Homo sapiens: one gene and its partner. The protein of the gene in region 1 interacts with the protein of each later gene in a pairwise test. Each region holds a gene or a part of one and is shown on either strand. Other genes may lie near its edges. The genes, in order: SYPL2 and ATP13A1.

The links.
Region 2: the proteins of SYPL2 (region 1) and ATP13A1 interact in binary tests that used the Homo sapiens proteins (3 or more experiments, as listed by UniProt).

The regions. Positions count from the first base shown.
Region 1 is NC_000001.11:109,472,736-109,476,545, reverse strand, and holds part of SYPL2 (synaptophysin-like protein 2), read right to left. Parts: intron 966-3,810; coding exon 841-965; intron 1-840.
Region 2 is NC_000019.10:19,653,551-19,657,360, forward strand, and holds part of ATP13A1 (endoplasmic reticulum transmembrane helix translocase), read right to left. Parts: coding exon 3,786-3,810; intron 3,600-3,785; coding exon 3,444-3,599; intron 3,367-3,443; coding exon 3,297-3,366; intron 3,217-3,296; coding exon 3,110-3,216; intron 2,634-3,109; coding exon 2,504-2,633; intron 2,384-2,503; coding exon 2,328-2,383; intron 2,105-2,327; coding exon 1,978-2,104; intron 1,904-1,977; coding exon 1,766-1,903; intron 1,690-1,765; coding exon 1,569-1,689; intron 1,151-1,568; coding exon 993-1,150; intron 595-992; coding exon 419-594; intron 345-418; coding exon 234-344; intron 1-233. UniProt on the Homo sapiens protein: Endoplasmic reticulum translocase required to remove mitochondrial transmembrane proteins mistargeted to the endoplasmic reticulum.

The DNA of each region.
Region 1 (3,810 bases):
ACCCTGCCCAGACATGGTGACCATGTATTCCCAAGTGTCTCCAGGGCCCTTTAGGTCACAACTGCAATATATGTAGTTCTTCTCTTTCTGGTAGCCAAACCACTAGGCAGATCAGCTTCATTCTGCCTCTGGAAAGTGCAGGCCCAGAGTGGCCAAGATAAGGTTGGAATCACCCATTCTCAGGCTTTATTGGGCTTTCCAATGAGACAGTGGACAAATTAAAGAGAAAAACACAGCCTATTATATATGAGACAGTTAATATAACTTGGGTGCTGATACTAGAAATTTCTGAAAAGGTGAGCCTCATCCCCATTTTCCCCTGAACACCTGGGCTCCCTACTTCCTAAGCTCTCAAATACCCAGAAAAGAGATCACTTCTACCTCCCTGTCAAGGTGTGCCCACTTGTATCCTGGTCGTACTGGCTGAGGATCCCACATCAACTCTTTAGGATGTAAGTACTAATAAGCTTCCCTACCTTCAAGGCAGAGAGGAGGCTACTGAGGGTCAGAGAGACCTGTCCAGCTTGTCCAGGTTCCTGTAAGCCTCCATCCCAAACTGCATTGGCTCTTTCTGTATGAGCTGGTGTGACCTGCCATGGGTTGTCCATGGACTGGAACATTATTATAACAGTGATCAATCTGTATTTCCCTTACGTTTTGCTCTGGTCAATGTGTCTGAAATTGCTAAAAAGCAGAAAGGATCTAAGTTTTGTCATTCTATTTGAATCTGGAGTGGCACGCAATGAATGGTTTTTAGGTTTCTGGAGGAGGAAGAGACCAAGCAGGTCCTGCCAGTCAAGTGAGAGATGATGTGCTGGGTTGGAACCAATTCTTGCTCACCTGAAGGGATAGCCAAATGCAACGATGATGGAGCTCACGTCCTTGGCTTCGTTGTTGCAGCGAACCATTGCTCCTGTCTCCCCGCTGTAGGAGCCACAGGACCCGAAGGCGAAAATAGCAAAGAGCTGAGAGAGAGTGAAGCCTCTTTGAGAGTCAGAAGGCCTCAACTGGCCAAAGTCGAGAACTAACCGTGACTCCCCGCAGGTGCAGACATTAAGTGCGGGAGTGGGGGAGAGTGAGGATCCCCTTTAATCAAGTTCTTCCTAGGTAGAAACCCATGGCTTCCATTTATCTTCCAGCCTCAGGCTGCTGGACCAAATAGCCAAATGAATACAAGGTTGACTGAGTGGTGTCTGCAAGGGAGATGAAGAGGCAGGAAATGGACAGTTGCCAGATCTCTCCATTGGGCATGACTTGGGGACCACAGGTAGCCTCCTTAAGATGACTAACACAAAACCTCTGCAATTCAGGCTTTAGGAAACTTCTAGCTTACAGATAGACTTGAATTTCCTTCCCAAGGGAGAGACACACTCAAAAAGATTCCCCTGCATCAACCTAGATCAGACATGCCTAGAACGCTTTTCATTTCTCCTTTGAACTAGTCATCTAATCTTGTTTCCTAGTTGCTAACTTCCAGTGGCTTCCTGCCTTGGTGGAGGTATAGCTGGAGGGGCCAGCTTCTACCAAGCCACCCCAGATGGGCCATACTACTGTCCCATAGTACTGACAGCCTAATTCCTCTTCCCCAAAAGGCACATGGCCTTCTAGCAATAGTGCTGGCTGGGCCAATGTGACAATCTTGGCTCAAGCCCAGAGAAAAGTACCCTCCACTTGCCTTATCAGTCTCCACTGTTTCCCCACTGGTATTTCCCTTTGTCATCTGTTGATGCTGCCATTTCTCAGTGTTAAGATCCAGAGGTGTCTCAGGTCACTCGAATTGTTTTCTTCTCCACCTTTCCTCACATTTTACTACACCTTCTCTCTCAAGTGAAATAAAATTTCCTCATCCTATGATTTTCAGATTTCTTTCTGGGAAACACACTTTGGTTAGAAAAGGAGGTGAGAGGCCAGGTGCGGTGGCTCACACCTGTAATCCCAGCACTTTGGGAGGCTGAGGCGGGTGGATCATTTGAGGTCAGGAGTTTGAGACCAACCTGGCCAACATGGTGAAACCCCATATCTACTAAAAATACAAAAATCAGCCTGGCGGTAGAGTGTCGCATGCCTGTAATCTCAGCTACTTGGGAGGCTGAGGCAGGAGAATCACTTGAACCCGGGAGGCGGAGGTTGCAGTGAGCCGAGATCGTGCCACTGCACTCCAGCCTGGCAACAGAATGAGACCTTGTCCCTCTCCCGCCCACCGCCAAAAAAAAAAAAAAAAAGAAAAGAAAAGAAAAGAAAAAAGAAAAGGAGGTGAGAAATTGAAATGTCTTATCCTCCACATCATCTGCTCAGATTGGATTTCCTGTGCACTTACCTTTGACTTGTACACAATGTCATGTTCTTATTAAGCAATGAGCTTATTCTCTTAATTGTTCACTCTCTGTATCTTTCTTCGAGACTCAGTGTCTTGGACATTAAGCACTTGGAAGACAGCTGATCTGTATGTCAGCCCTGCATCCAGAGTCTAGAATAGAAGCTATATGCACTTTATTTTGCCAATGCTTGTTAGCATTATGGAGTGAAAGGAGACCTGAACTAGGAGTATGGAAACCTAGGTTCCAGACCTGGTCCTGTCACTAATTAGCCAGGTGAGCTCTGATAAGTCACTCTGCTCTCTGAGTCTGTTTCCTCATCTTTTTTTTTTTTTTTAGATGGAGTCTTGCTCTGTCGCCCAGGCTGGAGTGTAGTGGCGCAATCTTGGCTCACTGCAAGCTGCACCTCCTGCGTTCACACCATTCTCCTGCCTCAGCCTGTTGAGTAGCTGGGACTATAGGCGCCCACCACCATGCCCAGCTAATTTTTTGTATTTTTTTTAGTAGAGACGGGTTTTCACCGTGTTAGCCAGGATGGTCTCGGTCTCCTGACCTTGTGATCCGCCCGCCTCAACCTCCCAAAGTGCTGGGATTATAGGCATGAGCCCAGCCTGTTTCCTCATCTTAAATGGAGGGGTTTGGAGTAGATAATCTAGAGGCCCTTTCCAGCCCTGGAACTCTCTCACTCTCTGAGAGTAACACTGTCAGTGTACTCTTGACTGGGCTTGCCAACAGCTGTGCTTTGCCCCTGCGAGGTGTCCAGTGCCACTGCCCCCGGCTTGCAGCGCCTGGCCTTGCAGATCTCCATGCTGGAGCCATTGGCCTCTCTCCAAATAATGGGCACCTCTCTGTTTTCAGGAGGTTTATTCCAGACAAATGAGAATTGTCTCCATGTTTAAAGATATCTGGGAAAGAAGACAGTAAAACCTCCCTCCAATGCCTAAATACCCTCCTCTCCTGAATTAAATGATGAAGACTGCAGTAGAGCCCTGTCTGCCCGCCTTCTTCACAGAGGTAGAGAAGAGTCACTCGAAGCCTCTGCATCATTACCCTTTACTTACTCAAAGTGGCCTCACCATTGTAATAGTGGAACTTCTCTAACTCTTCCTCATAGGAATTCGCTAATCTTTTGTCAGTTCTGTGGCCATCTGATTCCTCTTAGAAGTTTCTTTATTCCTCTTAGCTTCTGGTGCCCAGAACTGGATGTGATTAGGGTGTCACATTCTGGGAAGGGCAGCACAGTTGGAAATATTTTTACCCGTTGGCAGTTAGTCAGTGAATGGCTCCTTATAGGTTCCTTAAGAAAGCAGGGGCCGGGCATGGTGGCTCACAGCTGTAATCCCAGCAGTTTGGGAGGCCAAGCAGGAGAATGGCTTGAGCCCAGGAATTTGAGACTAGCAACATATAGGCAACATAGCAAGACCCTCCCCTACAGAAACTACAAACAAAAAATTAGCTGGGCATGGTGGTGCCTGCTAATAGTCCCAGTTACTCA
Region 2 (3,810 bases), on another chromosome or scaffold:
GACTGGGGCAGGTAAGCCCTGCGTGTGCTCTGCGTGAGCCAGGACTGGGTGGGTCCCCACAGCAGTGGACAGACTGAGTGCCATTTGGAGTCTCCAAAGGTAGAAGCTGGAGGCGGGGCAAGGAGGACAAAATCACAACCATTCAACCTGGCACTGTGGGACACAGGAGGTGACTCAGGGAGGAGCTGACGGGCCAGGCACATGGTGAAGGCAGGGGGAGCCTGGGCCCGTACCTGCTGGTGAGTGAGGTGTCCCAGCTCCTTGTACCCCAGCGCCAGGACGCGGGCTCCTTCCCGGGAGATCTCGGTGTGGATGTGGTGGTAGTCGGGCGGGCACTGGGAGAACTGCAGGGAATGCAGGGGGATGTCACGGGCTGCCCCGCGCCCCCACCCCTTGCCCCAGGCTGGGGCCAGCTCACCATGGAGTGCAGAGTTTCGGGGGCCCCCTTCACGGCCGCGATGTAGCAGAGGTCGGTGGAGCCCAGCTTCTCATACGAGGCAAGCACGGACATTCGCTTCAGGGCACTGGCAAAATGAAAGCGCTGGTGAATTTTCAGCCCCTGAGTTTTAATACTTCGGGGGAATACTTTCTCATCTGGAAACAAATAAGTACGAGTCCTGAGGGGCTTTGCTCCAAAGAGGCAGCCAAGCCCCTACCTCTCACCCCGGCCTCCCCCACCTCCCTCCTGCCTCCCCCAGGGCCTGATCGGGGCTCTGGGCTAGAGCAGGTGTTGGTCCAGAGCTGGAAGACCTGGGCTTGGAGGACCCTGGCACTGTGGCTTCGGCCAGGGCAGGGCAGATTCCAACCCAGAGGGACACCCAAGGACGTGGCCTATCCTGGGTCTAAAGTGAGCCTCTGGCCACCCACCTCGGGGAGCATCAGAGCTGTAGGCCTGCCTGTCCCCAAGATGCTCTGAGGGGTGCAGCCCACCTGCCTAGGGCTGTGAGAGCCAGTGGCTCCCCCTTGCTGGGCCTGAGGCCCCAGCCCCTCACCTTTGGTCAGCGTCCAGTCCACGGCCGTCAGCATGGCCTTCTCTAGAGGGTCACCCACGAGGGTGCCGTCGTCCAGCTGCATGAGCGAGTGGCACGAGGCCAGGGCCCGGTGTGTTTCTACAGGGATGCTGGACACTGGGGTCACCTCCTTCCCGTCTCTGCAAGGTCGGGGAACAGCTGGTTACAGAGTGCAGGCGGGTAGGGCGAAGCTGCATCCCCACCAGCAGAAGGACCCCCAAGGCCATTCATTCCGTGCTTGTCACTGGGGTGGCTTGGGCGCCAACTGGGTCTTTATGAGACCTGCACCTGCTTCACAGATGCCCCCAGAAGCCAGGCATTGTGCCTGGGGGTCATGTGGTGCATGGCTGGTGTGGGATGTTCCAGGCCTGAGCTGAGCCCCCGTGCCGCTACCATGGCTGACACCCAGGACTTTGTGGGGAGCCCCTGGAAATGAACCCGAGGCAGGGCCTCTGACGGGCCCTCACTGCAAGGGCTTGGGGTGGATGGGCCACCTGTCTCTCGACTTCCCAGAAACCCCATCTGGGTGACCTTTGCTGCAGGGCCCCTGATGCTTACCTCAGCCCGGCCACACCGCGCACCACCAGGCTGTCACTGGTCAACGTCCCCGTCTTGTCAAAGCAGCACACCTCGACCTTGCCAGCAAAGGGGATCCGGAAGGGCTCTGTGCAGTACATGTCTAGGGGCGGGAGTGAGGTCAGGGGTCCTGCTTGGCCCCAGCCCACTCGGCACCCCATCCCATTTGACACACTCACAGAGCTTGGCCAGGGCGATGAGGGAGGTGTTGACGGCCAGGGACAGCTCGATGGGCAGCTCAGGAGGCACGACCGAGGTGAGGATCAGGGTGCACTCCAGAAACAGCTTGTAGCGGTTCCGGCTGGGGTCCTTGGTACCTGTGGAGACAGGGCCTGCCAACCTGGAGCCTCGGAGGGTGGGCGCAGGGGACCACAGAGGCCGTGGCGCTTACCTTCAATCCATACATAGGCAGCTGCAGCGATGGCAAACACCAGGAGGAAGAGGATGAAGATGAAGGTCTCCAGGTTGTTCGCAGTCACCCTCTTGACCCCGAAGAGGATGGTGCGCAGCAGCTTGCCCTGGAGGAATGGAGGAACAGCCTTTCTGCTGTCTGGACTCCCTCCAGCAGCTCAGGCCTGGAAGCGTGGGCCTGGTCTTGGGGTGGCCTCTGCACCCTGGCCCAGGTCCAGGGCCGTGCTGCCAGAGTCAGCCCGTGGGGCAGATGTTCTGGGGTCGGAAAGGGCTGATACCTTGGCTGTCCAACTGCCCTGGGGCCCGCCCTCCCCAGACCTGGCCCCGCACCTGGGATGTGTTGAATCCGGTCCGCAGGACGTAGGCCACGCACCCGCTGTCAACCGCTGGGGAGAGAAGCAGAGTCACCGTCATGCCTGTCTCCTCGTCCTGACTCCCTCATGATCAAGCAGACGGGCAAAGGGGGTGGAAGCCCAGATACCCCCAGACGCCCATGAGGCACCTACGCTTCAGGCCCGTGGTGGCTTTCTGTGGGGGGATGTGCTGCACCACCTTGGTGCCCCCGAAGATGACGTGCAGCCGGGAATCAGCCTGGAGGTCCAGCACCCGGTCTGGGCTGAGGTCTTCGATGGGCTCCTGGGGAGGAAGATCGTGAATCTGGATGGCCAGGCCTACCTTGCTTCCTTCTCCATCTGAGTTCCTGGACAGCTGGACCTTGAGGCTGGAATGAGCCAGGGGGATCCCCACCCGACCAATACATCCCACCCAGCTCCCAGATCCTCACCCTCACCCCGTCCTGTCTTCTCCCCATTGCACTCACAGTGCCTGCTCTCTGGGGCCTGCACTTGGCCTCGTCTGGGACTCACCCCTCTGGACTGCTCCCAGCCCACCTTGGTCTGACATCCCAGGGCACCAATGTACCCTGGATGCCCTTGGCTCTCTCACCTCCTTCCTCGCCCCCACCACCCGGCTCCCCAGTCCACAGAGCTCATCTGTGCCCACACTGCCTCCTCCGCCTGTGCCTGAGGGGGATCCCCGCCACCCCCTGGGCCTCCACCTCCTGGCCTGTTTCCTCCTGAACAGCTTGAGGATCCCCATCCTCCACCAAGTACCTTCATCTGTGGCACGGACTCCCCCGTGAGCATGGCCTCGTCTACGATGCAGCGGCCTCGCAGCAGAAGCACGTCACATGGCACCAGGTTCTCCTGTGGGGAGCGGCCTGCAGGGCAGAGGCAGGAGGGTTGGCCAGAGGCCCTGAGGCTGGGGCTCCCACTGGGACTGAGCGGAACCCGGCCTCACCGATGGAGACGATGTCCCCTGGTACGATCTCATCACTGGCAATGGGCCTCCACTTGCGGCTTCGGTAGACCTGGGCGGGGCATGGGTGTCAGCACAGAAGCCGCACCTGTGCTGCACCCCCAACCTGGGTCTCCCTGGCAGCCACACCTGGATCATGTGGGGCTTGTTGCCCATCTTCCGGATCTCCGACATGTTCCGCATCTGCTGCTGCACCAGCGAGGCCTCGAACGCCACCAGCATGGATAGCGTAAAGACGCTGTAGTACCAGTACTCATCCAGGCACCAGAGCCCCACACAGAACACCTGTGGGATACCAGCCTGTCTGTCCTTGCCCTACCCGCCCTGTTCCCATGAGCCCCTTCCACCCACCGGATCTGATATGTGAGGGTGGGGAGAGGCTTCCAGGTTTAGAAGTGGTGGGCAGGCTTGATCCGGTTAGGAAAGCCCCAAGGGAGGAAATGGGGAGATGGGCCAGAGCTGCTGCTTTACCTGAAATACAAAGAAGGGGGCTGTG